Linked DNA regions of Homo sapiens: all the other regions are linked to region 1. Evidence: fine-mapped expression QTL. A gene starts in region 1. Each other region holds a variant in brackets. All regions are shown on one strand. Distances are from middle to middle.

The links. PIP is the estimated chance that this variant, and not a neighbour inherited with it, causes the effect.
Region 2: its variant is fine-mapped to the expression of EXOC3 in whole blood (INTERVAL, PIP 0.97).
Region 3: its variant is fine-mapped to the expression of EXOC3 in whole blood (TOPMed, PIP 0.98).
Region 4: its variant is fine-mapped to the expression of EXOC3 in whole blood (TOPMed, PIP above 0.99).
Region 5: its variant is fine-mapped to the expression of EXOC3 in fibroblasts (GTEx, PIP above 0.99).

What each region holds. Positions count from the first base shown.
Region 1 is chr5:440,468-446,613 of GRCh38, forward strand. It overlaps EXOC3 (exocyst complex component 3), which reads left to right and starts at 2,709. Exons shown (of 13, transcript NM_007277.5): 1 at 2,709-2,823; 2 at 5,683-5,882. The coding sequence starts at 5,739. It overlaps EXOC3-AS1 (EXOC3 antisense RNA 1), which reads right to left and starts at 2,693. Exons shown (of 1, transcript NR_126522.1): 1 at 1,368-2,693. RefSeq lists enhancers at 51-200, 2,154-2,203, 2,224-2,333, 3,104-3,233, 3,284-3,373 and 2 more and a silencer at 2,414-2,803.
Region 2 is chr5:353,057-359,202 of GRCh38, forward strand. AHRR (aryl hydrocarbon receptor repressor) reads left to right here. Exons shown (of 11, transcript NM_001377236.1): 3 at 674-855. It overlaps PDCD6-AHRR (PDCD6-AHRR readthrough (NMD candidate)), which reads left to right. Exons shown (of 13, transcript NR_165163.2): 5 at 674-855. Among named protein-coding and RNA genes, the nearest start is that of AHRR, 34 kb to the left of the region's middle. The variant C/T (reference allele first, on the strand shown) is at 3,440.
Region 3 is chr5:292,082-298,227 of GRCh38, forward strand. The region is part of intron 2 of PDCD6 (programmed cell death 6); the gene reads left to right. All of the region lies in intron 2 of PDCD6-AHRR (PDCD6-AHRR readthrough (NMD candidate)), which reads left to right. Among named protein-coding and RNA genes, the nearest start is that of PDCD6-AHRR, 24 kb to the left of the region's middle. RefSeq lists a silencer at 2,926-3,096 and enhancers at 4,398-4,926, 4,927-5,455. The variant TTAAAA/T (reference allele first, on the strand shown) is at 3,127.
Region 4 is chr5:473,437-479,582 of GRCh38, forward strand. It overlaps SLC9A3 (solute carrier family 9 member A3), which reads right to left. Exons shown (of 17, transcript NM_004174.4): 11 at 3,896-4,008; 12 at 3,107-3,236; 13 at 2,766-2,942; 14 at 2,584-2,656; 15 at 2,125-2,235; 16 at 1,447-1,696. It overlaps SLC9A3-AS1 (SLC9A3 antisense RNA 1), which reads left to right. Exons shown (of 7, transcript NR_125375.1): 2 at 1,701-1,883; 3 at 2,796-3,127; 4 at 3,808-3,900; 5 at 4,370-4,413. Among named protein-coding and RNA genes, the nearest start is that of SLC9A3-AS1, 3.3 kb to the left of the region's middle. RefSeq lists a silencer at 1-507 and enhancers at 1,692-2,332, 4,728-4,897. The variant G/A (reference allele first, on the strand shown) is at 3,314.
Region 5 is chr5:157,502-163,647 of GRCh38, forward strand. PLEKHG4B (pleckstrin homology and RhoGEF domain containing G4B) reads left to right here. Exons shown (of 20, transcript NM_052909.5): 12 at 4,282-4,443; 13 at 5,221-6,047. Among named protein-coding and RNA genes, the nearest start is that of LRRC14B, 31 kb to the right of the region's middle. RefSeq lists enhancers at 2,170-2,670, 2,671-3,171. The variant G/A (reference allele first, on the strand shown) is at 2,093.

The DNA.
Region 1 (6,146 bases):
TATGAATGTTTCACTGTTTCTAATCCACTTACTTGTGTTCTCATTACTGATACATTTCAACACAGGGTCCTCATCTTCTCCTTGCCTGCAGTCTCTGTGCTGTTGCCTGCATTTTCTCTCTTCCTGTTTCTATTTCTGTAGTGGCTAACCTTAATGTGGGCATTTAACAAGGTCTAAGCAGGAGCTAAGCACGGTCTCTATTCTCCCAGAGCAGGGTCAGGACTGTGGGTGCTTCAGTGCCCTCCCCTCCCTCCCCCTCGAGTTTGCTCCTGTCAAGGTGGAGGAGGATCCCTCTAGCAATGACCCTGGGTTGGCTTCCGCCGAGGGCTGAGTTTAGGAACAGTCTCCAGGCTGTTGCTGTTTTCCTAGTCCACGCTTTCACTGAGGATGCATCCCTTGCACATCTGTGCTTCACATGGGAGTCGCCGTCCACCTCCCACCTGCTGGGAGCCTTAGCTTCATCATCTGTCCTGCTTCAGTGTAAAACCCAACCCCTGGGCCGCAGAACTCGCACCCTACCCACCCACCTGCCTGCTGTAGGACGGCAAGCATCTCTGCTTCTGATTCACGTCCTCTCCCCTTCCCACATTTGTCCCTGGTCACGTCCTTGCCTGTTCGTGAATCCACTTGTGCAATCGACATGATGCTTGCACTCAGCAGTGCTCCTGGGTGTTCGCAGAACATGGTCTGCCAAAAACAGAAGTCAAGAAACTTTTTTTTTTGAGACAGATTCTCCCTCTGTCACCCAGGCTGGAGTGTAGTGGTGCCATCTCAGTTCACTGCAACCTCCTCCTCCCGGGTTGAAGCCATTCTCCTGCCTCAGCCTCCCAGGGAGCTGAGATTACAGGCATGCACCACCATGCCTGGCTAATTTTTGTGGGGTTTTTTTTGGTAGAGATGGGGTTCCTACCAAAAAGACCATGTTGCCCAGGCTGGTCTCAAACTCCTGGGCTCAAGGGGTCTGCCCATCTCAGCCTCCCAAAGTGCTGGGATTACAGTTAGGAGCCACTGCGCCCAGCCAATAAATACCTTTTTTTTTTTTTTTTTTTTTTTTTTTTTTTTGAGACGGAGCCTCGCTCTGTTGCCCAGGCTGGAGTACAGTGGCGCGATCTTGGCTCACTGCAAGCTCCGCCTCCCGGGTTCACGCCATTCTCCTGCCTCAGCCTCCCGAGTAGCTGGGACTCCAGGGGCCCACCACCACACCTGCCTAGTTTTTTTGTATTTTTTTTAGTAGAGACGGGGTTTCACCATGTTAGCCAGGATGGTCTCGATCTCCTGACCTCATGATCTACCTGCCTCGCCTCCCAAAGTGCTGGGATTACAGGCGTGAGCCACGGCGCCCCGCCAAGAAAGACTTCTAATCAATGTTTTGTTAAGAAGTTACTAGACAGTCCTCCATCCAAATTCACTACCAGACACTGATATAATAGTATGAGTCTTTAGTTCATAATACTCAATGTTACTATATTTTTAAGAGTCCTAAAAGCTTTGGCAATTTTGGCAATTTTTTCTTCATTAGTTTCAAAATTTCTTTACAGTCATAATTTCTAACACAATTTTAACTTTTTTACTTTTTTTCATTGCTCAACTTGTTGCTAGATTTTCAGAAATTACAAGGAAAAACTGAAATAATAGAGCCGGGGTCAGTGTCAACATCAGCAGGGCACGGGGCAGGGCTCCCTGTCGGAGTGGCAGTGGGGGCTCCCGCAAGCTCCATCTCCTTCCTGTGTGCCCCTGCCCCATGCTGCTGCCACTTCCCTGGTCTCTGCTGGCTTCCCTGCCACCTTCCAGACCCTTCCTTTCGTGTGGCTAATTTTCAGGAGGGGCAGGGGCACAACCTAGCAGCTCCAACCTATGAAAGACTTTGTCAGTTGGTGTGTCAAAGCCAGCATCTTTTATCAAACAGACAAACCCTGAACGCTCGTGGTTTAGCACGTGCTTCTTCCTCCAGGCGAAGCCAAGTGCTGGCCATGGGCCTCTCCTCCAGGAAGCGACTCAGGACCGGCCCTCTGCAGCGCGGCCCAGTGACCCACATTCATTCTCCAAGACCTGCGCTGCTGGGCCTCTGAGGGGCCCCGGAAACATCCGGTGGCCACCCATCCCACTGGCATTGTTCCCACGAGGGTGCCAATGACTGCGCTCCTGGAGGGGCTGAGTTCGTCTTTGGGTCCAGGAGGTACCCAAAGCCGCTTGTCTGCTGGTGGCAGGTATGACAGACGTTTGATTCCCAACCTTCTCCGCTTTGGTTTCTTCGTTTACTGAATGCCCGGCGCCCACCTCAGTCCGCGGGAAACGAGGGACGCCCCTGCCACACTGCAGTGCGGACGACGAGGCCAACATAAAGACAGCAGGCATCAGCAGAGGATGGAGACAGCGGCTCTGGGGCTGTCTTCTCTCCGCAGGTTGGGAAGGGAAAGGAGAGAAAATGCACGCAGTCACGCTCGGCGGAGGCGTCCAGGACTGCGCCCGCCCTGGGGAAGGGCGCACGCGGTGGTCGCCAGGGGCAGCGAGAGGGCCTGAGTTGGGGGGGCTGGGACGGACAAGAAGCCCCCCACCTCGGCGGTTTCCCTGTCCTGCTGGGGAGCGGCCATGGGGCAGGTCCCCGAGCTGAAGTCGCTCGGCCGGGAGACGAGTACCCGCCCCGCGGGAGGGCCCGGACCCGTGCTTCCGGCGCCGTTGCCGGAAGCGGAAGTGCCCGCGCGCTGTCCACTTCCGGCCGGGACCCCGGAGGCGGAGGCAGCGAAGGCGGAGGGGGCGGCGGGGGCGGCGGCGGCGGCGGCGGCGGCGGCGGCGGCGGCGGCGGCGGCGGCGTAGCCGTAGAGGGTGAGTCGGTGGCAGGTCCTGACGGCCGGCGGGTCCTTGGGAGGTGGTCGCCGTCTTTCATCCTTGCTCTCCCTGTCTCTGGCTTCCGCGGGGGCGCGTAGGGGGAGGCCGGACCGGGACCTGGAGGGCGGGGAGGCCGTTCCGGACCCCGTGGAGTATCCCGCTCGTGCGAGTGTCCTCGGCGCAGGTGTCCTCCCCGGCACATGTGTCCCCCCCAGGCGTAGGTGTCCCCTTGGCACATGTGTCCCCACAGGCACAAGGTCCTTCCTGGTGCAGGTGTCCCCTTAACAGTGTCTTCCCCCACGCCCCAGGCGCTGGTGTCCTTCCTGGCACAGGTGTCCCCCCTCGGAGCAGGTGTCCCTCCTTGGGGCAGATGTCCCTCCAGGCACAAGTGTCCTTCCTGGCGCAGGTGTCCCCTCGGCGCAGGAGTTCTCCAAGGTGCAAGTGTCCCCTCAAGCACAGGTGTCCCTCCCAGGCACAAGTGTACTTCCTGGTGCAGGTGTCCTCTTGACGGTGTCCCCCCCCAGGCGCAGTTGTCCTTCCTGGCACAGGTGTCCCCCCTCGGACCAGGTGTCCCTCGTCGGAGCAGGTGTCCTTCTGGGCACAAGCGTCCTTCCTGGCCTTTAGGAAGCTTTCAAGGTGCAGGTGTCCTCCAAGGTGCAGGTGTCCTCCAGCGGAGTGTCCCCTCCGTGAGGTGCCTCCCAGCACAGGTGTTCCCCTCGGCGCAGGCGTCCCCCCGGTAAAGGGTCCCTCCTGGCAGAGGTGTCTGCCCGGCAGAGGTGTCTCCCTGGCGCAGGTGTCTCCGTGGGTGCTGATGTTCCCCGCAGTAGGGTGTCCCCCCGCTCGGCGGAGAGGCTCACAGCGGAGCCAGCGCCAGGGGAAGGCAGTCAGAAAGGCCCTGGTAGGGGCTGGACCTGGGTCTCTGTTTATGGTCTCTGAGTTCCTCTTTGGCTTCTGTGACCCAAAATCTTTAGTCTTCAGGCTGGGATGGAAGCCTCTGCGGTGCGTTTTTTAACTCCAGATTTTCCCCTTTTCCACATGAGTAGCTTTATTCTGACTCCAAGGCGAGCCCTGCTTCACAGCTCTCCACTCACATTGCCTTGGCTTCCACCCACAGCGTGACAGACTTCACTCCAGCCTTAAGATGGGCGCAGCCACCTCACCGCGTGCCCCAGCAGAGCGGCTGGGGGTCCACTTCTTGGGTTATTATCCAGCCCTATAATCAAAATCATACAGGCTTTAATGTCAATGGAAATGCTGATGATAATGTCCAAACAAAATAAGAAAACAAAAGTGTGCACCTACAAAGTCATATAAGCAGTGGAATCTTAGCTTTAAAAGAAACTCAAAGGGAAAAAACTGGAAGGAAACAAGCCCTGTTGGAGGGAGTTGCCCCTGAGTGTCGGGATTTAAGGGGAGTTGTCCCTGGGTGGCGGGATTTAAGGGGAGTTGCCCCTGAGTGGTGGGATATAGCGGGGGTTACCCCTGAGTGGTGGGATTTACGGGAAGTTGTCCCTGGATTGTGAGATTTAAGGGAAGTTGCCCCTGGGTAGCAAGATTTAAGAGGAGTTGCCCATAGATGATGGGATTTAAGGGGAGTTGCCTCTGGCATCTTTGTATTTTTGTCCTGTCCAGATTTTCTACGTTGGTATGCCAAATTTCATAATCAGAAAATAAAGAGAAAGGAAAGGTTGCAATGTAGGTCCAGATGAAAAAGGAGAAGAGAGGTGTCTGAAAGCATGTGGGCATGGAGAATGAAAAATTCCAGGAGAAGGTGAATCTTTTTAATATTCATGAAGATGAAAATCAGACAGCTGAAGTCAAGGGGAACAGGTGTATCGGATTCCCTCATTGACTGATGCTCACCAAGCAGCTGTGTTAGCTCCCCGAGGAGGACGATGGTGGAGGGAGCATGGAAGGCAGGCTTGCCTGGCATCTGAGCACCTGTGGTCTGCACGGGGCCTGCATAAAGGAGGGAAGCATGATGTTTTCTAGGACAGTTAAAAAAGGGGGAAATGGGGTTTTGGATACCCAAGACAATAATGACTTTTTCTTTTTTTTTCTTTTTTTTTTTTTTGAGACGGAGTCTCGCTCTGTCGCCCAGGCTGGAGTGCAGTGGCGCGATCTCGGCTGACTGCAAGCTCCGCCTCCGGGGTTCACGCCAGTCTCCTGCCTCAGCCTCCCGAGTAGCTGGGACTACAGGCACCCACCAACATGCCCAGCTAATTTTTTTGTGTGTATTTTTAGTAGATACAGGGTTTCACCATGTTAGCCAGGATGGTCTCGATCTCCTGACCTCGTGATCCACCCGCCTCGGCCTGCCAAAGTGCTGGGATTACAGGCGTGAGCCACCGGGCCTGGCTGACTATTGTCACTTTTATAGGGTGGGAATTGTGGGGCTTGTGCTGGGCCTCCAGCTGTGGTACCTGGTCGGGGGAGTTGTCCACGCTGTATTTGTCTTCACTGAGGGTCCTGGTGCAGCTGCCCACAGGCCTGGCCAAGGTGCTGGGGGAAAGCTCCCGAAATGAGAAACCAGCCCTGTCTTGGGGAGAGATGTGCCTTTGAGGCTGACATCTACATGCTGGGTGGTCTGGGACCCACATCTAGAATCTTCGCAATGTCCATGTCTCTCATGCCTGTGAAACGCCCCTGCTCTCCCCTTAAAGGTATAACTTCTGCATGTTTGTGTTACGAAGGTTTGTTTATCTTATCAAGGAGTTCCTCATCCTAGTTCAGCTTTCTTTGAGGTTTCCTGGATTAATGATCTCAGAGGCTCTGCTTGTAGCTCCACTGTGATCACCTGATAGTTTGGGGGAGGTTTTGTACCTAACATTTCTACCGTCCTAACAACTCCTGCAGTGCACAGAGAACACCCCTAGCATGAACAGTGTGAGGATTCCACCAGCTTTTTCACCATGAAGGAGACAGACCGGGAGGCCGTTGCGACAGCAGTGCAAAGGGTTGCTGGGATGCTCCAGCGCCCGGACCAGCTGGACAAGGTGGAGCAGTATCGCAGGAGAGAAGCGCGGAAGAAGGCCTCCGTGGAGGCCAGATTGAAGGTGAGGCCACCTGCCCCACTCCCAGGATCTGTCTTGGGCTTCAGGTTCTTGCTTGACATCACCATGATGATTTTGCTAAACTAGCCTTTATGGTAATGTGCAAGGAGGCAGAGCTGGACTTTCTTGAGCAGTTACTTTCAGCAGTGTATTACCACTCAGTAGCTTTGCTTAGAAGACAGTGGGAATGGTGAAAACACCAAAGGAACAAGCTTTTAAACACCCTGAGGCCGGGTGCGGTGACTCATGCCTGTAATCCCAGCACCT
Region 2 (6,146 bases), 87 kb before region 1:
CACAGGTGGCCCCTTTTTGTGGGTAGAGCAGGCCTGCTCTGGCTTATTAGGAGAATTGGGTGATGGCCCTCACTGCCCCTTTGTGGGGCCCCAGAGTGGCAGGCACCTGGTCTCATTTGCCCTGGGTACTCTCCCCTCAGCCCCAGCATGTACAGGAGAAACCAAGCTCGGAGCGGCCTTGGGCACGGCCCGGCTGATGCCAGGAGGACCTTTTCATGTTTCCTGGAATGTGTTAGGTTTTGTTTAGACACCGAGGAGTCCCCTAAGGATGCTGAATGAATGTGGCATTTTCTATGCTCACTCCTGCCCCGCCAGCCTGGGGCCAGGCGTCCTCCTCCCTCCTCAGGGATCCGTAGTGGAGAGGTGGAGAAATGTGCCTGTCCCGCAGCTGGGGGCCGTGCCCTGTCTCCGTGCTCTGAGCTGCGGTTCTCCGGCTGGTTTGCTTCTTCTCTCTACATCCCCTCCAGATACTGAGCTGTGCTTGGCTGTTGTGCGCTGTGGTTTTTAGTGTCTATGTCTTGAGGCATGGGTGAGCTTTAGTCCTCTTCCCGTCTTTTGTCCTGGCAGCAGCGTAGATGCTCCTAGTAAGGTCACTGCAGAGGACGGTTTCCGCCCCAGGGGGCCTGTGGCTTCTGGTGGAGAAGCCCACCTGACCCAGACCATCTCCCCACAGGAGGCCCGCCGTGGGGGCAGAGAAGTCCAACCCCTCCAAGCGACACCGGGACCGCCTCAACGCCGAGTTGGACCACCTGGCCAGCCTGCTGCCGTTCCCGCCTGACATCATCTCCAAGCTGGACAAGCTTTCTGTCCTGCGCCTCAGTGTCAGTTACCTCCGGGTGAAGAGCTTCTTCCAAGGTAGGACTCTCACCTGCTCCCACCTGTTCACTTGAGTCAGGCTGTGTCTCCCCTGAGTCCATCTGGGGCCTTGTGGCCAGGTGAAGTGTGTCTGGTGGGTTGCACCATGTGCACTCCCTTCTTCCCCCACGCTGCCCCCAGAACCTGGAGACTTGGCCCCTGGATGGGAGCTGGCTGGGCTGTGGATTTTCCCTGGGGCCAGGTCTGGCCCTAGCTGTCCTCGACACTCTCAGGGTGGGGGCCTCACCTCAGTTTGCTGGGATGGGCCAGTTTGCGCCTGGGGTCCTGGGTTTGCTGAAGCTGCGCAGCTGCTGAGGGAGGGGCTGGGGCTGTTCCTCCCCGTGCTGGGCCTCACTGGGGCTTCCCCACAGACCCCGGCTCCAGGGAATGAGGGATCGGCTTTGTGGATGAGCAGGGCTGGGCATGGTCAGGAGGCTGAGGCAGCTGACTAGGTGGGACCCGGGGGCTGCCCTGGGGTGCCGGGCGCCTCCCCCTGCCCACGCCAGGCCGTGCCCGGACACAGCTGCTGGGGCTGCCCTCTCGTGGGGAGGGGCTTCTGGGGCTCCTGCATCTCAGGTGGGGCCTCCCCAGGCCTGTGCCCTGTCTGTCCTTGGAAGCATGGCGTTTCCTTAGATTTCAGGTTATTGCTGCCCTGGGAGCTGGGATCGCTCCAGAGAACTCGCAGGTGTAGACCGTGGGGCCTTTGCTGTTGCGGGAGGGTGGGAGAGAAGCTGCTTTCAGCTTCTGTGTTGGGTGACGTGCCTGCACGTGGTTTGATTGCAGCACTTTTAGAATTAAAAACCCCGTGACCAGCAGCATGTGGCAGTTGTGCCCGGTGCCTGCACTCCTGAGTTTGAGTCAGGGTGGGGGCCTCCCCTGGGCGGGGGGCGTCTGTCTCAGGGTGCAAGAGGCTGTCAGTGCCTGGGCCCCTGCAGACCTCTGCGCACCCTCAGACACCCCCAGGGAAGGACGTGGCCCATGGGCTGCGGGAAGGAAAGTCACGGTGATGCCCAGCATCACGCGCCGTGTCCTGCCAGTGCCGGCCCCACACTGAGGGTCTTCCCCGGGTCCCGGCTGGCCGCAGCCTCCATGGAAATCAAATCCCACAAAATGTTAACAGAGCTTATCTGAGTGGTGAGGTCACAGCAAGTTTTAGTTTTACATTCCAGGTTTTCTAATTTTATGTTGAAAACTATTAATTTTATATTTATCTCTGTTCCCAGCCTGGGCCTCCTGGTGCCCAGGGCTGCTGGGTGGTGTTGGACTCAGTTTACCTGAGAGACCTGGGGTTTGCCGTATGTGCAGGATGGCAGCTTTTCCAGGAGGGTTAAGATGTGGTGCAGTTGGTGTGGTCTGGTGTGGTGGAGTGGGCACCACCCTGCATGCACCTGGGCATGGGCACCAGCATGGAATTGAGGGCAGGCTCCCAGGTTTGCCTTCTGGGACACGCCTTTCATGGATGGCGCAGTGCGGCTCAGCAGCGCCAATGGCAGAGGGCAGTCCCCGTGTCTGGACAGCGCAGGAAGGGCTGGGGCAGCCGGCAGGGAGGCTTTGTCCCGAGCTGAAGACCTGTCACATCGGCTTCCTCCCACCGACACCGCACAGCCTCACCCTCTCGCTGGGAGGTTGGAGGAGAGGCCAGGTCATTTCCTCTCCGCACAGGTCCCACTGTGTCCAGCCAGGCCAGGGCTTGACGGCCTCAGAAAGTCTTCGATTCTGGTGTTTCCAGCAAGTTTGGACACCTGGCTCTTCTTAAACTGCCAGCGAGTGAGCTTCCCATCCTGCTGCCTGCCCCAAGCCGGGGCAATGGCACTGGATGGCCATCCTGTGCAGGGGCACCCTGCGTGCCTCCTGCTGCCCTGCTGGGAGGTGCCCACCTCTGCCGCAGCTGCAGTGACTCTCAGGGGCCACCGGCTTACGAGAGTGCTGCAGCTTTCAGGAATAAACTTCCTGATTTTTCTACCAAGGATTGTGAATTTTGTGATCCCCTTCAGGCTGTACATTTTAGAGGAAATTCTAAAAACTTTTCTGAAGTCATTTCCACGTATAATTAGAAACAAGTCAAGCTATAAAAGTTAGATCTTAAACTATGCCTCTTGACTTAGAGATGGGTAAGCTAATTTCATTACGGCTGCCATAAAAAGTTGCCTTTGGGAAGGACATGAACCAGGGTGATGATGGCCTGAGCATTTGCTTGTGATGTTTAATGTTAATGTGACTGTTAAGGTCGGGATTTTCCACTCTTGGTGATTTTACTATTCACACCAGGGGAAGTCAGGCACAAAATAAGAGGGAAGGAGGTGGTGAGGAGGAGACAGTCTGCTGCTGCCTTGAGAGAGCTCTCTGCCCTCCTGCTGCGGGGCATGGAGGGGAGCTGGGCCCCTTCTAGGCTGAACCCTGGTCACAGCCTGGGACGTGGGACCCTAACACTGACCAGGAAGGGTCCAGAAGCCCCGGCTCTGTTGCTGAAGCCCAGTTGTGGGTCAGGCCACCCTCCCAGAACTCCTTGGGGGTGCCTGTGTTTGCCAGGACCCCTGCAGTCAGCGACTGAGGAAGAGCGCCCGCGAGTGGAGGCCCTCAGTCA[C/T]GGAGTCCACCCGGGCAGTCAGCGACTGAGGAAGAGCGCCCGGGAGTGGAGGCCCTCAGTCACGGAGTCCACCCGGGCAGTCAGCGACTGAGGAAGAGCGCCCGCGAGTGGAGGCCCTCAGACACGGAGTCCACCCGGGCAGTCAGCGACTGAGGAAGAGCGCCCGCGAGTGGAGGCCCTCAGTCACGGAGTCCACCCGGGCAGTCAGCGACTGAGGAAGAGCGCCCGGGAGTGGAGGCCCTCAGTCACGGAGTCCACCCGGGCAGTCAGCGACTGAGGAAGAGCGCCCGGGAGTGGAGGCCCTCAGTCACGGAGTCCACCCGGGCAGTCAGCGACTGAGGAAGAGCGCCCGGGAGTGGAGGCCCTCAGTCACGGAGTCCACCCGGGCAGTCAGCGACTGAGGAAGAGCGCCCGCGAGTGGAGGCCCTCAGTCACGGAGTCCACCCGGGCAGTCAGCGACTGAGGAAGAGCGCCCGGGAGTGGAGGCCCTCAGTCACGGAGTCCACCCGGGCAGTCAGCGACTGAGGAAGAGCGCCCGCGAGTGGAGGCCCTCAGTCACGGAGTCCACCCGGGCAGTCAGCGACTGAGGAAGAGCGCCCGGGAGTGGAGGCCCTCAGTCACGGAGTCCACCCGGGCAGTCAGCGACTGAGGAAGAGCGCCCGCGAGTGGAGGCCCTCAGTCACGGAGTCCACCCGGGCAGTCAGCGACTGAGGAAGAGCGCCCGGGAGTGGAGGCCCTCAGTCACGGAGTCCACCCGGGCAGTCAGCGACTGAGGAAGAGCGCCCGCGAGTGGAGGCCCTCAGTCACGGAGTCCACCCGGGCAGTCAGCGACTGAGGAAGAGCGCCCGCGAGTGGAGGCCCTCAGTCACGGAGTCCACCCGGGCAGTCAGCGACTGAGGAAGAGCGCCCGCGAGTGGAGGCCCTCAGTCACGGAGTCCACCCGGGCAGTCAGCGACTGAGGAAGAGCGCCCGGGAGTGGAGGCCCTCAGTCACGGAGTCCACCCGGGCAGTCAGCGACTGGGGAAGAGCGCCCGCGAGTGGAGGCCCTCAGACACGGAGTCCACCCGGGCAGTCAGCGACTGGGGAAGAGCGCCCGGGAGTGGAGGCCCTCAGTCACGGAGTCCACCCGGGCAGTCAGCGACTGAGGAAGAGCGCCCGCGAGTGGAGGCCCTCAGTCACGGAGTCCACCCGGGCAGTCAGCGACTGGGGAAGAGCGCCCGCGAGTGGAGGCCCTCAGTCACGGAGTCCACCCGGGCAGTCAGCGACTGAGGAAGAGCGCCCGCGAGTGGAGGCCGTCAGTCACGGAGTCCACCCGGGCAGTCAGCGACTGAGGAAGAGCGCCCGCGAGTGGAGGCCCTCAGTCACGGAGTCCACCCGGGCAGTCAGCGACTGAGGAAGAGCGCCCGGGAGTGGAGGCCCTCAGTCACGGAGTCCACCCGGGCAGTCAGCGACTGGGGAAGAGCGCCCGCGAGTGGAGGCCCTCAGACACGGAGTCCACCCGGGCAGTCAGCGACTGGGGAAGAGCGCCCGGGAGTGGAGGCCCTCAGTCACGGAGTCCACCCGGGCAGTCAGCGACTGAGGAAGAGCGCCCGCGAGTGGAGGCCCTCAGTCACGGAGTCCACCCGGGCAGTCAGCGACTGGGGAAGAGCGCCCGCGAGTGGAGGCCCTCAGTCACGGAGTCCACCCGGGCAGTCAGCGACTGAGGAAGAGCGCCCGCGAGTGGAGGCCGTCAGTCACGGAGTCCACCCGGGCAGTCAGCGACTGAGGAAGAGCGCCCGCGAGTGGAGGCCCTCAGTCACGGAGTCCACCCGGGCAGTCAGCGACTGAGGAAGAGCGCCCGGGAGTGGAGGCCCTCAGTCACGGAGTCCACCCGGGCAGTCAGCGACTGGGGAAGAGCGCCCGCGAGTGGAGGCCCTCAGACACGGAGTCCACCCGGGCAGTCAGCGACTGGGGAAGAGCGCCCGGGAGTGGAGGCCCTCAGTCACGGAGTCCACCCGGGCAGTCAGCGACTGAGGAAGAGCGCCCGCGAGTGGAGGCCCTCAGTCACGGAGTCCACCCGGGCAGTCAGCGACTGAGGAAGAGCGCCCGGGAGTGGAGGCCGTCAGTCACGGAGTCCACCCGGGCAGTCAGCGACTGAGGAAGAGCGCCCGCAAGTGGAGGCCCTCAGTCACGGAGTCCACCCGGGCAGTCAGCGACTGAGGAAGAGCGCCCGCGAGTGGAGGCCCTCAGTCACGGAGTCCACCCGGGCAGTCAGCGACTGAGGAAGAGCGCCCGCGAGTGGAGGCCCTCAGTCACGGAGTCCACCCGGGCAGTCAGCGACTGGGGAAGAGCGCCCGGGAGTGGAGGCCCTCAGTCACGGAGTCCACCCGGGCAGTCAGCGACTGGGGAAGAGCGCCCGGGAGTGGAGGCCCTCAGTCACGGAGTCCACCCGGGCAGTCAGCGACTGGGGAAGAGCGCCCGCGAGTGGAGGCCCTCAGTCACGGAGTCCACCCGGGCAGTCAGCGACTGAGGAAGAGCGCCCGCGAGTGGAGGCCGTCAGTCACGGAGTCCACCCGGGCAGTCAGCGACTGAGGAAGAGCGCCCGCGAGTGGAGGCCCTCAGTCACGGAGTCCACCCGGGCAGTCAGCGACTGAGGAAGAGCGCCCGCGAGTGGAGGCCCTCAGTCACGGAGTCCACCCGGGCAGTCAGCGACTGAGGAAGAGCGCCC
Region 3 (6,146 bases), 150 kb before region 1:
GGTGGGATTTTTGCCCATCTGGTGGGTGTCACGTGATATCTCCCACTGTTAGGCTGAGCCCCTCTTCATGTTTTCATTAGCCATTCCTCCACATTTCCTCTTCTGTGGAGGGCCAGTTCAGCTCTTTTCCCCAGTTTCTGTTAAGTTGTTTGAATTTTTGCACTTTTCTTTTATTATTCCTATTGTTATGTTTTTGAGACAGAGTCTCACTCTGTTGCCCAGGCTGGAATGCAGTGGTGTGATCTCAGCTCACTGCAACCTCCACCTTCTGGGTTCAAGTGATTCTCCTGCCTCAGCCTCCCAAGTAGCTGGGATTACAGGCGCCCGCCACCACCCCTGGCTAATTTTTGTATTTTTACTAGAGATGGGGTTTCACCATGTTGTCCAGACTGGTCTGAAACTCCTGACCTCAGGTGATTCTCCCACCTCAGCCTCCCAAAGTGCTGGGATTACAGGCATGAGCCACCATGCCTGGCCTGCCTTTTTCTTTTTCAAAAGGACTCTTTATACCTGTTCATTCCGGTGACTATCTGTATGGCAAAGATGGGTTTGAATCCACCAGGATAAATGTGCAGGATCTCCTCTCTGGTGGGAGAAGAGACAGAGAGGGATAGAAGGGTATGGAGAACAGAGCCGAGAGGAGGCCGAGTCAGGCAGGGGTGGCAGGCTGCTGTGAGGACTTGGCTCCGTCTCTGAGTCGGGTGGGGATTAGCAGAGGATTTAAACAGAGGAACCATGGGATCTCCCTTATGCATTTCTGCCATGGTTGGCTCAGCTGAACGCACCTCTTGAACAAGACTTGGCCTTGGACACCTAGAGGCCCTTGGTTGAGGGTTTACCTCCTGGCGTGGCCACTGACACATCCACGTTTGGCTCCCACACAGCTGGGCGGCCCCAAGACCTGCTCTGCCTGGGCTTCTCATTGGTGGCATTTCTCAAGTTTGTCCCCTCTCAAGTCTGCACCATCCGGAAAACCAAACACCTCTCTCTCCTACATGGAAACCCCCATCAGCACCTCCCCCTGACTCACAGGGCATCCCGTCAACATCACAGTCCCGACTTTCCCATATGGACAAGCCCACAGGACCCCCTGATGGACCAGGACAGCGCCAGCACTAAGACATGCCCTGAAACTCACAGGAAGACCTGATCAAGAAGACGGGAACAGCACAGGGCACTGGGAGCTGCAAACACCCACGATACTGTCAGAGATGGAGAAAGGTATGACAGGAAGAGCAGATCAAGAAGACGGGAACAGCACGAGGCACTGGGAGCTGCAAACGCCTGCGATAATGTCAGAGATGGAGAAAGGTATGACAGGAAGAGCAGATCAAGAAGACGGGAACAGCACGAGGCACTGGGAGCTGCAAACGCCCGCGATACTGTCAGAGATGGAGAAAGGTATGACAGGAAGAGCAGATCAAGAAGACGGGAACAGCACGAGGCACTGGGAGCTGCAAACGCCCGCGATACTGTCAGAGACGGAGAAAGGTATGACAGGAAGAGCAGATCAAGAAGACGGGAACAGCACGAGGCACTGGGAGCTGCAAACGCCCGCGATACTGTCAGAGACGGAGAAAGGTATGACAGGAAGAGCAGATCAAGAAGACGGGAACAGCACGAGGCACTGGGAGCTGCAAACGCCCGCGATACTGTCAGAGACGGAGAAAGGTATGACAGGAAGAGCAGATCAAGAAGACGGGAACAGCACGAGGCACTGGGAGCTGCAAACGCCCGCGATACTGTCAGAGACGGAGAAAGGTATGACAGGAAGAGCAGATCAAGAAGACGGGAACAGCACGAGGCACTGGGAGCTGCAAACGCCCGCGATACTGTCAGAGACGGAGAAAGGTATGACAGGAAGAGCAGATCAAGAAGACGGGAACAGCACGAGGCACTGGGAGCTGCAAACGCCCGCGATACTGTCAGAGACGGAGAAAGGTATGGCCATGGCTGACACAAAATGTTACTCAACATTTATCACAGGCCTAAATGGAGAACATAACGCTATAAAACCCTTAGATAAAAACACAGGAAAATTTGTATGGCCTGGGGTTGGGCGAAAAGTTCTTAGACATGACACCAAAAGCATGATTCATAAAAGATTGACAAATTAAATTGTCATAAATTTAAAATTATAATGCTATAAAGCAATATAAAAATCTAAAGAGAATGAAACACAAACCATGGTCTAGAAATAAACATTTGTGAATCACACGTCTCACAACGTACTGGCACGCAGGATATGTGAAGAACCATCAAAACTTAACCATAAGAAAGTAAAAGCCCCAGTATTAAAGAGAGGGCAGATATTGGAACAGAGGCCTCATCAAAGAAGGTATAAGGAGGGCATATTGCCCGAGAAAGAGGCTCAACGTCGTAGAGATGCTGGAGAAATGCCAGTCAACAGTACCTCTGCAAATCTATTAAAATGGCTAAAAACAGACAAAAACCACAGGCCGACCCAGGTTCTAGTGATGATGCAGAGGAACTGGGACCCTCATAAGCTGCAGTGGGAATGGGAGGGGTCCCGCCATGCTGGAAAGTGGTCCGGGAGTTTCTTACGAAGTTAAGCACATCCTTACCCTGTCATCCAGCAACCCCGCTCCTGAAACGTCCCCCAAGAGAAAACTTAAACGTGCATGCACAAACCTGCACACAAGTGTTTAGGCCTCATTCCTCATTGCCAATAACTGGAAGAAAACAAAATGTCCATCGGCAGGAGGAGGCGGGAACCAACGCGGATGCTTCCACACAGGGGGCACCAACCAGCAGTGGAAGGATGCACCCAAATGCCCCAGGTCTCCCAGGCCACATGCCCAGTGAAGGAAGCTAGTTTCGGTGCGCACAGGCCGAGGGATGCCGCCACGTGACATCTTGGAGAAGACAGTGCTACCGTGTTGGGGAGCAGGGCAGTGGTTTCGAGGGGCTACGGGTGGAGGGGCGAATGGAGGAGCTCTCTGGGGCGGTGGCGTGAGCACCTGCACCTCACTGTGGGCTGCTGCGGCTGAGGGGCTGTACAGCAAACACTAGCTTCAGTACACGCAGACTGAAGGAGGAAGGCTGCCACAAGTCAAAGACAGAGGGTGTCACCTCCATGAAACAAAAACATATTAAAAAAAACTC[TTAAAA/T]TAAAAAAACCACAAAAAGTATTTCATAAGCGTATTGGACTTTGAGTTGACATCATCTACCTGGGAGCATGGAACTGAAACCACAGGCTTGGCAATCCCAGAGGGAGAGAGTGGAGGGTTTAGACCTCCATTGAAGGGCTCAGTACCTGGCTATAGGAAATAACATTTAAAAAGCGGCAGGGTGGAAATAATTTCTGCTGATGAGGTTGCATTTCTCCAGATAACCGGCAGAGTAAATTAAAGCAATATAGTAAAACAATGCACATATTGATGGAATCTCAGGATCACAAGGTTGTGGTGAAGGAAATTTGAAGATGTCCAGGAAAGAAAGACAAATGAGATGAATCTTGCAGCTGCCCTTCAAGGGGGCATGGGCCGGGTGGCCATGATTCTCCGTGATGTTGCAGGAATTCTGGCTGGGTCCTCAGGAGCCTTTTTTTTCTTGTCCACATTCACCTTCGGTGGGTGGTCCCTGGTGGTCATGACCGCACTCAGGGCCCGGGGCCTGCTGAGGCTGCTCTCCCTGTTCCCGGAATGCAGGGGTTTGTTCCAGATCCCGCTGCTCTCCACACAGAAAGCCAATCACTAAGACGATAGTTACTGCCAATGAAGAAGGCATGCATCAGAAGCTACAGGCCAGGAGATGGGAGGTCAGCTTCAAATCCATCTTCCTGACTGACTATATAGCAGGGAAGAAGTGTGACTGTGTGTAAGGAAAACAGGAATTAGGGAGAGTGAGGAAGAGGAGTTGGTCAGGAGGAGGCAGGTGGCTGGTCAGGCACTCATGATGGGTGAGGGGTTTGGCGTCTTACTGTCCAGATGGCGTGATCTGGTGAGTCTCTCTTCCTTCACACTACCTGGGAGGCCTGATGGTCAGTTTCCTAAGAAAGGAACTCAAATAAGACAAATGTCACTTTCTCAAGTTTTAAGACCAAAAGGATCCATTTCTATGTTATTCAGAGAAACCATGAACATCAATTCTCTGGGACAATCAGGCCAGTTCAACACCAGATCTGATCGGCCACGACACCTGCTGCTCGACCCTCAGATAAGGCCCAGAATCCAGTGTCCTCTCCCCCACCCCAGCCTGGCCCCACACCCACACCTCCCCACTTCACCCTGGGCCTCTGCTCTCTCGCCACAGAGGGGTCAGGGAGCTGTTCACGCCCCACGTGCACCTGGGCACGTGGCATATTTCAGATGCACCTGGTGTCACTGTTTGCACAGACCTAAGTGGGAAGAGATCCAAATGCTCGTTCACTGCAGGTGGATGAGGACATCCCAGCAAGTCCCTCAGTGGAGTCAGCCAGTGCAAGGCGAGTGAGGGACCCCCAGAGACATGAATGGGTCTCAGATAGTGTGTGAGTGGATGAAGCAGCAAAAACACACGCTGCTAATTAATTGATTTATGTCGAGCTCAAAGTAGTCCACATCAAAAAGACTGTTTGGGGCTGCAGGAATTCAGTGGATAATTGCAGGCAAGGCAAGGGAAGGTGGACCAGAAAGGTGAGGAGGACGCTCCCTTCGAGGGTGGAGAGAGTAAGACTGGCATTGCACATGGGTGGGGGGGCCCGTCGAGGCCCCTCTTTGCTTCTGAGAGTCTGTTTTCATCGACAGTCTTCTACTAAATGTACATAGCAGCTTTTCAGGGCAAGGGTCACCGGGATTCGTCTTTATGCCTCCCCAGCCCGGGAGCCACCACCTCCACCAGACCCATCCACACAGTTGAATCTCATCTCAAGTTCTCTGGTGCCCGACCCCCCACGCACACCGTGCTGGTCTGGGCATCTCACCTGCATCCGCACAAGTGCCTCAGGAGGGTGGAGTGTCTGGTGCTCGGCGCTGGAGGCTCAGCCCACACTGTGCCGGGCAGTCGCAGGCCTCCCAGATGAATGAAGCATGAATGAATCCCGATCCTGTTATCACAGCTTCTCCCCACGCATCCCAGGCAGAATGTTGTGCAAAAACCACACCAGGATTCGTACATGCCAGAGGACTGAACTTCTGCGTGTTGCAGATAATTCATCTTCCTGAATCACTGTGGATCTACCATGTGGTTAACCACGGAATAAACATGGGGGAGAGCGTAAGCGCTGTCCTAGCAGAAACTTATGCTTCTTCCGTTACCCTTAAAAAGTAAAGGGTACGGATTTCATAATTGTGTTTCTCTTGTAAATGAGACTCTCATGGAAAAATCAGCCATGTAGGCGATAGATTTGTATACCTTTAGATTAAAATGTCACTTCGATTATTTCAAGTGTAAAAGTGTTTCAGCTTTTTTGAGGTATAATTGCTACACAAAGAGCTGCACACATTTCATGTGTGCACTTTGGTGAGACTTGACCTGAGCAAACACCCATGAAACCATCACCAAATCAAAGCAATCGAGGAATTCCACACTTGCTGGGGGCTTCCTTGCACCTGTGCCCGTGGTGAGAACACAGCACGAGATCTTCCCTCTCAGCCAATCGCAAACGGCCCACAAGAAAATGACACCAGGCCTCCTGGTGAACACACACCCTGTGATTTAATTGTTGATCTTTTTAACCTGGGGCTCACATTCTTCATTCAGAATATGGCAAAGACTTTAGAAGTCATCCAAAGTATCAGTAATTTGAAGTCCTTTAATACAAAAAGTATAGAATATGACCTTTTGTCACATAGCAATAGGGAAATGAAAAAAGAAAATCGACTTATGTTCTTTAATGGCTAGGAAAATATTCTTAAAAAGAGATCTCAAGCACAGGTGAATCTAACAAATGACAAATTTATTTCTTTACATAGATAAATATAAGGTTAGATCCACGTAAATAAATGAAGCCATTAAGGGTAGAGTCCCACAGACCACAGCGTCCAGCTCTGCTATCGATATCAGGGAGTAATTTCCAGGCACACAGAACTGACCCAGCATCCAGCTCTGCTCATGATTTCAGGGGTAATTCCCAGGCACGGGTCGAGCTGGAGAAGCTGGGGGCCCCCATAGCCCCACTGTCCTTCCTGCCTCATGGGGTCTCT
Region 4 (6,146 bases), 33 kb after region 1:
GGGCGTCCCCGGGGGCCTCAGCTGTCCCCGAGCCCGGCGGCTCTCGCCTCCCCTCCCGCGGCGCACCCCAGGCTCGGCGTCCGCTGGGGCCTCCTCCCAGGACCCGGGTTCGCGGGGCAGAGGCGGAAGCAGCAACAGCGAAGCCCCAGCCCGGCCCCGCCACGTCCCCCCGCCGGGGGTCCCGGGACAGCGGCCTCCTCGGCGCAGGAAGGTCCCGCCCCAGGCCCTGCAGCGCGGGAGGTCAAGGTCCCCAAGGGGACCTGCTTCCTCCATCTCAAACCGCCCTGGCGTCCCCCGGGTGCCTCCCAGGCCCCCAGAGGGAGCTCAGAAAGCCCAGACCCCACGGCCCGCCCCTCTCCCTGCTCTGAGCTGGAGGCAGAGTCCGGGTCTGCGGGGCCGGCCCTCCCTGTATCCCTGTGAGAGGGTCGGGGACCCGGGGCGTCTGTCTGGCTTCCCCCAGCCCTGCTCTCAGCTCCCTGGGAGCGCAGGATTTGGACTCGCGGACTAGCTTTCGGAGCCACCTAAAGGAAATCTCAGGCGGCCCTAGTGCCCTCAGCTCCGTGGGAGCAGCAGAGACGCCAGAGTATCTCTGTCCGGGCTCCTGAGGGAGGTGCGGCCAGCAGGGCGCTAGAGGAGGAAGAGGGGCTGCTGGAGAGAGAGAGCGCGCCAGGTTCAGGTCCAGGGAGGAGAGAGAGCGAGCGCGCGAGGCGGAGACCTGGAGGGAGAGGAGCTGCGGAGAGGGGTTAGGCGGGGAGGGAGAGAGAGAACCAGGTTCCGGTCCAGGGAGGAGAGAGACAGCGCGCGCGAGGCGGAGACCTGGAGGAGAGGAGCTGCGGAGAGGGGTTAGGCGGGGAGAGAGAGAGAGCGAGCCAGGTTCAGGTCCAGGGAGGAGAGAGACAGCGCGCGCGAGGCGGAGACCTGGAGGGAGAGGAGCTGCGGAGAGGGGTTAGGCGGGGAGGGAGAGAGAGAACCAGGTTCAGGTCCAGGGAGGAGAGAGACAGCGCGCGCGAGGCGGAGACCTGGAGGAGAGGAGCTGCGGAGAGGGGTTAGGCGGGGAGAGAGAGAGAGCGAGCCAGGTTCAGGTCCAGGGAGGAGAGAGACAGCGCGCGCGAGGCGGAGACCTGGAGGGAGAGGAGCTGCGGAGAGGGGTTAGGCGGGGAGGGAGAGAGCCAGGTTCAGGTCCAGGGAGGAGAGAGACAGCGCGCGCGAGGCGGAGACCTGGAGGGAGAGGAGCTGCGGAGAGGGGTTAGGCGGGGAGAGAGAGAGCGAGCCAGGTTCAGGTCCAGGGAGGAGAGAGACAGCGCGCGCGAGGCGGAGACCTGGAGGGAGAGGAGCTGCGGAGAGGGGTTAGGCGGGGAGGGAGAGAGACAGCGCGCGCGAGGCGGAGACCTGGAGGGAGAGGAGCTGCGGAGAGGGGTTAGGCGGCGGGAGGCCCGGGAGCGTTACATGTGTGTGGACTCGGGGAGGGCGGCGGGGGGCCGCTCCTCGGGGCCGTCTGCCTGCAGGAAGGAGTCCACGGACTTGCTGCTGAGGCGGAAGGGCATCAGGCGGCAGAAGGTGCCGGGAGAGTAGGGAATCTGCGTGCGGGCCCTCTGCGAGGGGACCACCGTCTCCCCGGGAGACAGCCAGGGCGGCAGCCTGGCCAGGAGGCTGCGGTCCAGGGCCTCGTCCGGAGAAAACACAGGGTTGTCAATTCCTAGGAGAGAGGGCAGCGGCTAGTCAGCCTTCGGAGAGCCCCACGGCGGCAGGGGAGACCTCGCCGGGGCCGTCACCTGCTGGGTGCCTTGGAAAGTTAGGGTCACCGGGAAGGTTAGGGTCACGTGCCTTTCAGGTTGCGGGCCCTTCCCCCACATCCATGACCCCACACGCCACAGGCAGCACAGGTAACGTCTCGCTTCCCTCAAGACATACCCCACCTGCTCCCTGCCCGGCCCACGTCTCCCCGGACAGCAGCCTCCGAGTTGGTTGAGGGGGCACTCAGTGGGTGCCAAGCAGGGCCCTTGAGAACCCACAGGAGACCCCACCCCCCCAGGTCCCAGTGCCCCTGGTCCAATGACCGAGCTCCCTCCTGGGGCGGCAGGAGCCACCCCTCCCTTAGCCACGACGCCTGTGCCCCGTCCCCACCTGCAGGGGAGTCGGACGCTGTGTCCTTGGTGACACTAGCCAGGAACTCGATCCCCCCACTCATCTCCTCATCATAGTTGGGGGGCTCCTCGGTGTCTGAAAGTTCCAAGTCTGGGGAAGACAGGTTGGGGTGAGGACTGGGGTCACTGGGGGGCTGTCCTCACAGCCCAGTCAGCAGTGTCCATCAGCTCTGTGCACAGAGGTGCAGGCAGTCGGGACCCACAGAGAGGAGGGCTAAACCGCAGGGCTGGAGGAGGGACCCCACTTAGAGGGCAGTGTCCCTGGAACCCCATCCTGGGTGGGTCTGCAGCTGGGGCCCTGACCATGCCTCCCCTGCCTGGGTGGCTGGAGGGTCCCCAGAGGGGAAGGTCCTGAGAGGGGAGGTTCCCGAGCCGGGAGGGCTGGGGCTGGGAGGTGGTGGCTCCCAGTCCCAGCGTTCCTGCAGGGCCCCCAGCGCACCTTTCTCCTTGATGGTGAAATTCTGCGCAGGGCTCTCCATGGGCAGCTTCCCATTGGGGATGCTGCTGTTTCTCTGCGGAGCAAACGTGAAGCTGCTCACACCCCGACACAGCCACACCCAGCCCTGACTGCCCCCGCTCCAGGCCCCAGCCCCGCCAAGCCTCCTGGTGACCCAGCCTTACCCGCTTCTGGGCACGCTCCCGCTTGTACAGCTTGGCCGCCTTCTTGTTCTGGTTGAGCCCCAGCTTGGTCGACTTGAAGGACTCCAGGCGCTTCCGCATGGTCCTGTGGAAGATTTCCCGGTCCTGTTTCTCGTCCTCCGTGGGCGTGAGCTCGTGTCGGCTGTACAGATGCTTGTACTGCGGGATCAGGCACGGAGGTCACAGCTGTGCCCACCGCCGGACATTCTCGCCCTCCTGCCGCAGGAGCTGAGCACGGATCCCCCGTGGTCCCAGGAGGGGACGAGGAAGCCGCCCCACGGGGTCCCTGCGGGGTCCTCCAGCCCCCAGCCCGCAGTGCCCACCTCCTGCCGCGGCTTGTACAGGTACTGCTGTAGCGTGTGGTGCGTGACCATGTCCTCCGCGTCCCGGATGCTCCGCCGTCGCTGCTCCAGAGACTGCATGTCCAGGCAGACAGCGCTGACATTTTCTCTCCTGCGTGGGGACCAGCGCTGAGCCATACAGGCTCCCTCAGGGTGGGGTCTCTTGCGCGCCCCTCGCCTTCCCACGGC[G/A]GGCATCTGGCCCTGGCTGCCTCCTGCGTGCCCCTCGCCTTCCCATGGTGGGCACCCGGCTGGGGCACGGGGACATCTGCCATCTGGCCAGCCCCTTCTCCCCTCGGGGCTTAGGCTGACTCCCCACGAGGCCTTCCTGGCCTCCTGTCTGAAGTGGGTCCCTTTCCTTACTGGTCCCTCTCCAAAGCCCTGGCTGTAAGACTCGGGGACCCCAGCATCTGCACATCTGGCAGAGTGGACCTCCTATGAGAACTGGCTGTGAGCTGTGGAGCCCAGGGCCGGAGGAGCAGTAAGGGTGGCATGGGGACCAGGACAGGCTGCTGCGGGCCAGGGGCAAACACGTCAGGCCTGGCCCCCAGTCCGCTGCTGCCCCTCCCTTTCACCTTCCATCCAGCACTAAGGGAGTCTGGCCACGGCCTAATATAGGAGGGCTTGTGGAAGGAGACACCCACCCCCTCTTTCTGCACCTCTCCCCTCTTCCATGCCACCCCCAGGCCAGGAGCCACCACAGCCCTGTCTGTGACTCTCAGCTCCCGAGGCTGGGCTCTTCCCCAGGGAAGCTGCATGACCATGGCCACATACAGGAGGTAGGAGACAGAGGCCTCCACGGTGGACGATCGTGGCGTGAAGTCCACGTTGACCACGTTGTCGGTGCTGGGGGAGCGGATGAAGGCCAGGGACCCGCGGCGCTCTCCCTGTGGTCAGGAAGCAGCCCGGTCAGTGGCCTGAGCAGCCAAGCCCTAGCTGCTGCCATTGTGTGCCCTGGGGGGAAGCGCCCAGAGCTCGGGGCCCGGGGAAAGCCTTGAGACCTGAGCCCCGGGTTCACGCCTCACAGCTGCAGAGGGAGGGGTGGAAATGCCAAAACCAGGAGATCAGATTTTGAGCCCCTGTCCGTCTGAGGCCACAGCCAGGCTGCTGCCTGAACTGGGCAGAGGTCATGCTTGTGGGAGGACACAGTGGTCTGAGTGTGAAGGGGTAAAGCTGCCTGGGACTTGGGATGTGTCTGGGGAAAGTGTTGATACTGCAGAATCATTGAAGTGGTCTCTGTCCCTGCAGGAGACCCTAAAACTCCATTGGCCTCATGTCCAGAACTGAATCAGGTAGAGAACGGAGCAGAGCCCGATGGGGCACAGAAGCCACACAGCTGAGTGCCAGAGGATGGAAGTGGGGCCGCCTATGTGTCCTCAGACCCCACCCGCCTGATGGCAGGGCCTGGAGAGCATGAGGTTGTGCAGGAGCACAGGGCAGAGTGGGCTTATGGCTGGAGTCAGGGTCCCCAGGGCCGGCAGGGGCACGGGTGTGGAGGGAACGTCAGCTCACTGCACTCAGACCTCGCCAGGTGGGCACCCGTGCCGCCTTCAGTGTGCAGGATGCTCCCAGGGAAGCCCCCGGGGTCAGGTGGGTGCCGCTGTTCCCACTGAAGATGCGGCCCCCAGTTCACTGCCCACTCGGGGGGGATTTGAGGGTCATTGGTTCTGAGGGCCCTCCGCCTGCTCTTTTGCTTCTAAATCCAGCATCTTCTGTATGACCTTTGTCCCGCTCCTGCCACCCCACGAAGACAGACGTGAGGGTCAGGGGAGCCACGGTGCTAACTGCCACTCTGGGCGGGCACAGGCGAGGGCTGTGCAGCACCCGGGCACGTGGGGTCTTCGGAGGGGCTGCTCCCCACACCACTTCCCCTGCCCCTGCCGAGCCCTGCCGTGGGGTGGGGGGGCGCAGGGAGAGAAAGCAGCCGCCCTGGGTGAGAGCCAGGAGGGACACTGGGCAGGCAGATGCCACCCCAGGTGTGGGGACCCCCGCTACTGAGTGGCCGGGAGGAGCCCACAGGCTCCCCACATGCAGCTGAGCCCAGGGTTGTGGTCGTGGGTCGTGGGTCAAGGATGGTGGCTGGTGTGGTTGGGGGAGAGGCTCAAGGCCCGCCTGCCAACCTTGTCACCTATGTGGGGGTGAGGGGAGCCCGCCAGAGGCCAGAGCCCCCACTGTCCCTTCCCACCCTCCAGCCAGGCTCCAGGCCTCCTAGGGCCAGAGTATCTGAGCTTTCTCTCGCTTGCCGGGCCTGTGGTTTGGGGGTTTGTGTGGAGCCTGGTCCAGGAGCCCTCCTTCCTGATCTGCACTGGCTGGCCCTCCTGACAGCCCCAGGCCCCCGTGCCCTCTGCCAGGAGGTGCCTTGCCACTTGGCATGGCCCCAGTCACGGGTGGCACATCTGGGGTGAATGCACGTCAGTGGAGGCAGAATCATTCTGTCTGAATGAATGGAGTTTCCAGGCCCCCACTGGCCCTCTGTGTGAGGGTCTGCAGGGTTTGGCAGGACAGGTCTTTCTCTCCGGCGAGAGCACCCACCCTGACCGGCTGCTGGATGAGGGCACCAAAGCTCGCTAGGGAGGGCTCTGTCCTTAGGGAGGAGCTGCGGAATCCCTGCAGCTGTGCCCCCAGGCCCTGCCTTGCACACTTCCTGCAGCCAGGGCGCCCCTGGGGAGGTCAGGGCAGGCCGGGGAGGCTGAGGCCCACCTGCCATAGTGGGCAGGTGCGGGAGCCAGGGCGGCAGTGGCCTCGGGGCTGGGTGGGGCGCCTGGCCTCTGGTCTCTGGAGCAGTCAGGGGCTCTGCAGACGCTGAGAGGCCTGCTCATAGTGGACTGGGAGATGCTGGAGCAGCCTCAGAGCCATGGCCGGCCCACAGCGGGAGACGGCCCTGCTGCTGCCCCTCTGCCTGTGCGTGTGCACCTGTGGGCACCTGCGTGTGCTGGGGCAGGCAGGGCTGTATTGGGACCAGGTCCCGTAACAGCCTGCCTGCTTACCGTCTGCTCCCATCCCTGGGGAAAGCAAGGGAGCTCGG
Region 5 (6,146 bases), 280 kb before region 1:
GTGCACAGTGTGTGGCGTGGCTGGGGTTATTGATGGCCCTTGGTGGACACACTGCAGAATCTGGGGTCCATATAGCAGTGGCTCTGAAATGATTGCTTAGCTCGGGGGGCACCAGCGAAATGATTGCTTAGCTCAGGGGTGCAGATGATGCTGCTGCCTCATTTTGATGCCCCTCTGGGCCTGACAGTTTAAGGGGTGCACACTCAGATAAAAAGTTTCTTTCTTTTCTCACATATAAACTCTTCAAAACTTGCACATTTTTATATAAATCCTTATTATTTTATCAACAACTATTGCTGCGATGAATGTGCGGGTGAAAGAGCCAGCAGCATGGAGAGGCAGCAGTGGGGTGGAGGCATCCCCAGCCCTCCTGTCTGCTGGCAAAGCTCCCCCGGCCTTCAGGTCCATGCGCGTGCCCTCACGGGGGCCTCCAGACAAAGACGTGCAGCAGGGACGCGAGGCACTGTGCATGCTCCTGGCCTCCCCACGACTGACCCCAGCTCCCAAATATTGGCCAGGGGCCCAGCTGGTCCAATCCCTGGGGCAGGAACAGGAACCCCACACCAGGCAAGTGGAGTCCAGGCCAAGCTGCAGCCACCAGCCAGTCCGGGCTGTCTCCAGTCTGTGCCCTCTGTCCTGGGGGTCTCCTCCATCTCCCCTCCTCCCTCTGCTCTATCCTGGCTCCATCTCCCCTCCTCCCCCTGCCCATCCTGGGGGTCTCCCCCATCTTCCCCTCCTCCCCCTGCCCATCCTGGGGGTCTCCTCCATCTCCTCTCCTCCCTCTGCCCATCCTGGGGGTCTCCTCCATCTCCTCTCCTCCCTCTGCCCATCCTGGGGGTCTCCTCCATCTCCTGTCCTCCCTCTGCCCATCCTGGGGGTCTCCTCCATCTCCTCTCCTCTCTCTGCCCATCCTGGGGGTCTCCTCCTTCTCCTCTCCTCCCTCTGCCCGTCCTGGGAGTCTCCCCCATCTCTCCTCCCACTGCCTATTCTGGGGGTCTCCCCTATCTCCCCTCCTCCCTCTGCCCATCCCAGGGGGTCTCCCCCATCTCCCCCTCCTCCCTCTGCCCGTCCTGGGAGTCTCCTTCATCTTCCCCTCCTCGTTCTACTCCGTCCTTGGGGGGGTCTCCCCCATCTCCCCTCCTCCCTCTGCCCATCCTGGGGGATCTCCCCCATCTCCCCTTCCTCCCTCTGCCTGTCCTGGGGGGTCTCCTTCGTCTTCCCTTCCTCGTTCTACTCCTTCCTGGGGTGTCTCCCCCATCTCCCCTCCTCCCTCTGCTCTTCCTGGGGTCTCCTCCATCTCCCTCCCCACTCTGCCCCATCCTGTGGTCTCCTATTTCCTGTATCCAAGTCTTCCTCTTTTTTCATTTACTTTGGCGTTTTATGCAGAATAACTTCCAGGACTTCCCAGAGAAAGGGATCTTGGGGTGAGCATTTTTGAGGCCGTGGTATCTAAAAGCATCTCTACTCCACCTTCATGGCCAGCAGTCACTTTAGTTTCCCTTCGCCAGCTGGAAGGCCCTGCGCCTGTGCTTAGCTTCCATCCCACTCCCAGCCTTCTGCCTGTGCCCTGCTTCTCGGTGGAAGCCACAGACTTTCCTGTCGTCCTCGGGGCTCTGGAATCTGAGGGTTGCCCAGGTGCGCTGAGGGCAGGTGTGCCCGAGGGTCACCCAGGTGCACTGAGAGCAGGTGTGCCTGAGGGTGGCCCAGGTGTGCCTGAGGGTCGCCCAGGTGCACTGAGGGCAGGTGTGCCTGAGGGTCGCCCAGGTGCACTGAGGGCAGGTGTGCCTGAGGGTCGCCCAGGTGCACCGAGGGCAGGTGTGCTCTTTGTGTCTGCACTGCGCCCCTCTGTTCTGGGAATTCTGTGACATCCTTCGTGGCGCTCGCATTTCCCACAGCTCCACACTTCCATCTGGTTCTGGAGTTTTCTGTCCTGTTGCCTTAATTTTCCCCACCCCTGGCTGTGTGCTGTCCTTGTAAGGTAGATTTTTCTCAGCTTTACCCTCTAACTCTATTATTGAGTTTTTTGTTTCTGCTCTTGCTTTTTAACTCCATGGGCTTATTTTCTGAACAGTCCCCTCTCCATACTAATCAT[G/A]ATGAGTCTGCACAGTCTGTGGCTTCTGTGGGTTTGTTCTGGCGCCAGAGGCTTTCCTGGCGACCCCTGGCTAGGAAGCCTGTGGCCCACGCATCTTTAGCATTTTCTCCCTGGCGGTCTGATTCTTTTCCTCTAATCCCGGCCTGAAAGGAGAGCCTGGCCGTAGCTCAGTGTTCACCTGCCAGGGAACAGACCCTGGGCCCTGTGGAGCAGGGTGCCCAGCTCCTTCCCTCCGACACTCCCTCACCCTGTCCTGTGGAGTCTCGGGACTTGGCCTCTGCTCTCCTCAGGCCCTGCCACTCCCGCTTCCTTCCCGGCCTCCAGGTTTGTGCCCTGGCTGCTCTCTGCCCACCGTGCTGAGTGTTACGCCTTGGAAGATGCTTGCAGGGCTTTAGTGGTGTCTCAAGAGGACACGTCTCACTCTGCAGTCTTCACCCAGAAACTCCACGTTGTGACCGGACAGGCGATCCTGCTATGTATAGGTGCACGTCTGTCTCTATATATTTAACCTAAAAAGTGCATGCACACTGTGGGAAAATTAGAAACAAATAGATTTTTACACACGGGATGCCGCATGTGGCGGCCTCGGCACCCTGTGTGTGGGCATGCGCTGCAAGCTCAGTCCCCGAGCCATGTTCACACGGCTCCCACACTGAAGGCCCTGGGCTCCTCCCCTCTCTGCTGTTAGAAACTCCCCATGTTGAACATCTCTGTGTCTCTGCTTCCTTCACAGCCTGTGGGTGTTGACTCTGGATACATTCCTAGGCTCGGATGGCTGCGGTCAGACCATTTGTTTTTGGAGGTTTCCACGCATAAGCCGTGGCACTCCAGCCGCACCTGCCTCCCGCCGGCTGCCCCGTGGGGAAATGGAGCCCCTAAACAGTGTGCCCTCAGATTTTCTATGCGACAGCTGGACATTCTCTTCACACGTTTATTATTTTTATTTCTGTAGTGAATTACTTGTTCATGCTTTAGACAGTTTTTCTAGGGTTGATCATCACTTCTGTCTATGTTATATGGATCCTTCATGTTCTGCTTGTTTTCCTAGTTTGTCATTTGCCCTCTAGCTTTGCTTATCTTTTAAACAGCCCTTTCTACCTTAAGTTATAGAATTATTAGTGTATTTCATCATAGAACCTTTATGACTTGAATTTTTGTATTTAAATCTTGAAACCAATGACAGCCGATTTTTCCACAAAGTTGGAGGCCAGGCTCCAGCTCTGCGCCACCCCCACTCTGCTCTGCCGAAGCCGCACCTGCCCCTTGCCTGGCAGTTGCAAGACTCTGCCCGTGCTCCTAAGAATCAAGATGCTGTGATTTTCTTCTTGACTCTGGCTCTGTTTACAGACAGCGTATGTGCTGGTCTGTCTCTCCTCTGCTGCATGTCTGGGGTCATTCGGTACCTTCTGATGGTCATGGATCCAGGCAGCTGTTCTCTTCTTCACAACAGGCCTCTCATCTCTGGGCATCTGACCCCTAGTCGCCCCTGGTGTTGCTGTTTAACGACAACATGAAGGGCTTACCTCTGACATTTCCACTGAATCCAGCAGTAAATGCCTCCAAAATAAGAACCTTGGTCTTGTCACCAGGGCGCGTAGCCACAGGCGCTCCGTCCAGCAGGGCTCAGCCAGGGGCTCCCCCATCTTTCCCAGGCAGCCTCAAGGGGCCAAGCAGCCACTGGCCTGAAGAATATTTCTGGAATATGCTTACCATATTAACCAGTTTCAAAATGGAAAGTCCTGGATCTATTGTTCAATGATTTTAATGTCCTTTTCCAAACAATGAAAATAGTTTGGAGCTTGAGCCTCAGAGGCCCGTGCCACCTCTCATCAGTCGTGTTCATTCACGGGTGGTTACGCAGCCAGGCTGTCAGCCCTGTGCAGCGTGTACTCAGGACATGACCAAGACGCATCCCTCCCTCGGTCCTGCTAAATCCTAGAGTGTGACTTCTTCGCATGTTTAAATATAAAATGTTCTTCCCCTGTGTAGATCAAATCATAGTTTGGAAAAGAACTAGAGAAATGCCTCGGTCCTTTGGTGCCTGCTCTCGAGAATGAGAGGCAGCAGCAGGCAGCACTGTGGGCCGTCCGAGCCTTGGTGCCAGTGGCTACACGCAGACCCAGCCCACACCTGGAGACATGAACGTGGAAGCACCGGGCTTGTACTGATGCTTTGTTCCTTGGGTACAGCAATCCTGCCAGAAAGGACTACAGCTGGCGAAGGAGAACCCGCAACGTACAGAGGAAATGGTCCAGGATTTCAGAAGGGGCCTGAGCGCCGTGGTCAGCCAGGCTGAGTGCAGGGAGGGAGAGCTGGCCAGGTGGACCCGCTCGTCCGAGTTGTGCGAGACGGTAAGAGACCCAGTGGGCGTGCGTCCCAGGGATCCCGGCTCCTTAGGCTGTGGACATCTAGCAAGTGCCTCCCCTCACAAGCTGGAGTGGGCCAGGCTGTGGGACAGAGGCCGGGCACCTGCGATGGAGCCCCCCTGGCCACTGCGCCCACGGCTCTCTGGAGAAGGCTCTGAGCCGACCTGTGAAGCATTTGATATTGTACCAAACAGACCAGCCAAACGAACACACACATTTCTCTGTGTGTTTACTGGCTCAGTTAGAAAATTCCACTGATTGCCCAAAACCCTAAACAAGTGCTACAGCAGACTGCTCGCCTGCGAGCTCCCACGCGCCCCAGACCGCACGCCTGCGAGCTCCCCCGCGCCGGGGACTGCCTGCCATTAGGAGCCCGGGCCAGAGGCCACGGAGCTCACCTGTCAGGACAGCATTTGAGGGGTCATGGGGTGGCCAGAGCAGGGTAGAGCCGTCTGCCCCGTCACGCCTCTCTCAGCTCACAGGATGTGGCATAACTGATCTACACAATGTCTTCACGTGGTCCTAGGACATCCCCCACGGTGCCCTCTGGCATGGCGAACAGACCCCATGGGGTCAGACACAGCCCACCTGCCCTTCCGCTGAACCCGGCCACAGCCCCCACTGGGTGGCGGGACTGCCTCTCGCTCTGCTTTCTGGCCCCCTGGTCCCTGAATAGGCTGACCTGGGGAACAGCAGGGCCTGAGCTGGCTCCAGGGCAGCCCCTCCTCCACTGCACTGAGCAGAGCCCTCCTTGTCCCACAGGTGAGCAGCTGGATGGGGCCCCTGGACCCGGAGGCTTGTCCCTCCTCACCCGTGGCTGAGTGTTTGAGGAGCTGTCACCAGGAGGCTACCTCGGTGGCTGCAGAGGCCTTCCCCGGGGCAGGTGTGGCAGTGCTGAAGCCTCATGCCCTGGGGAAACCGTGGGCATCACAGCAAGACCTGTGGCTGCAGTACCCCCAGACCCGGCTCCGTCTGGAAGAGGCCCTTTCTGAGGCTGCCCCAGACCCCAGCTTACCGCCCCTTGCCCAGAGCCCCCCAAAGCATGAGCGTGCCCAGGAGGCCATGAGGAGGCACCAGAAGCCACCCTCATTCCCCAGCACGGACAGTGGGGGTGGTGCCTGGGAACCTGCGCAACCACTGTCCGGCCTCCCTGGACGAGCGCTTCTGTGTGGACAGGACGGGGAGACCCTGCGCCCAGGGCTGTGTGCTCTGTGGGACCCACTGTCCCTCCTCAGGGGCCTTCCAGGGGCAGGGGCCACCACGGCCCACCTGGAGGACAGCTCTGCCTGTTCCTCTGAGCCCACCCAGACCCTGGCCAGCCGCCCCAGGAAACATCCCCAGAAGAAAATGATAAAGAAAACGCAAAGTTTCGAGATACCTCAGCCCGACAGTGGCCCCAGGGACTCCTGCCAGCCAGACCATACTAGTGTCTTCAGCAAGGGCCTGGAGGTAACCAGCACTGTAGCCACAGAGAAGAAGCTCCCGCTGTGGCAGCATGCCAGGAGCCCCCCGGTCACTCAGAGCCGGAGTCTGTCCTCCCCCTCGGGGCTCCACCCTGCTGAGGAGGATGGGAGGCAGCAGGTGGGCAGGTGAGGTGGACGTCCCCCTCCTCTCGTCCTAGCAGTCCTTGGGGATCTAGAAACCCAAAGCCATTTAGGCAGTAAACTCTCTTCTGCAAAGTAGAAAGT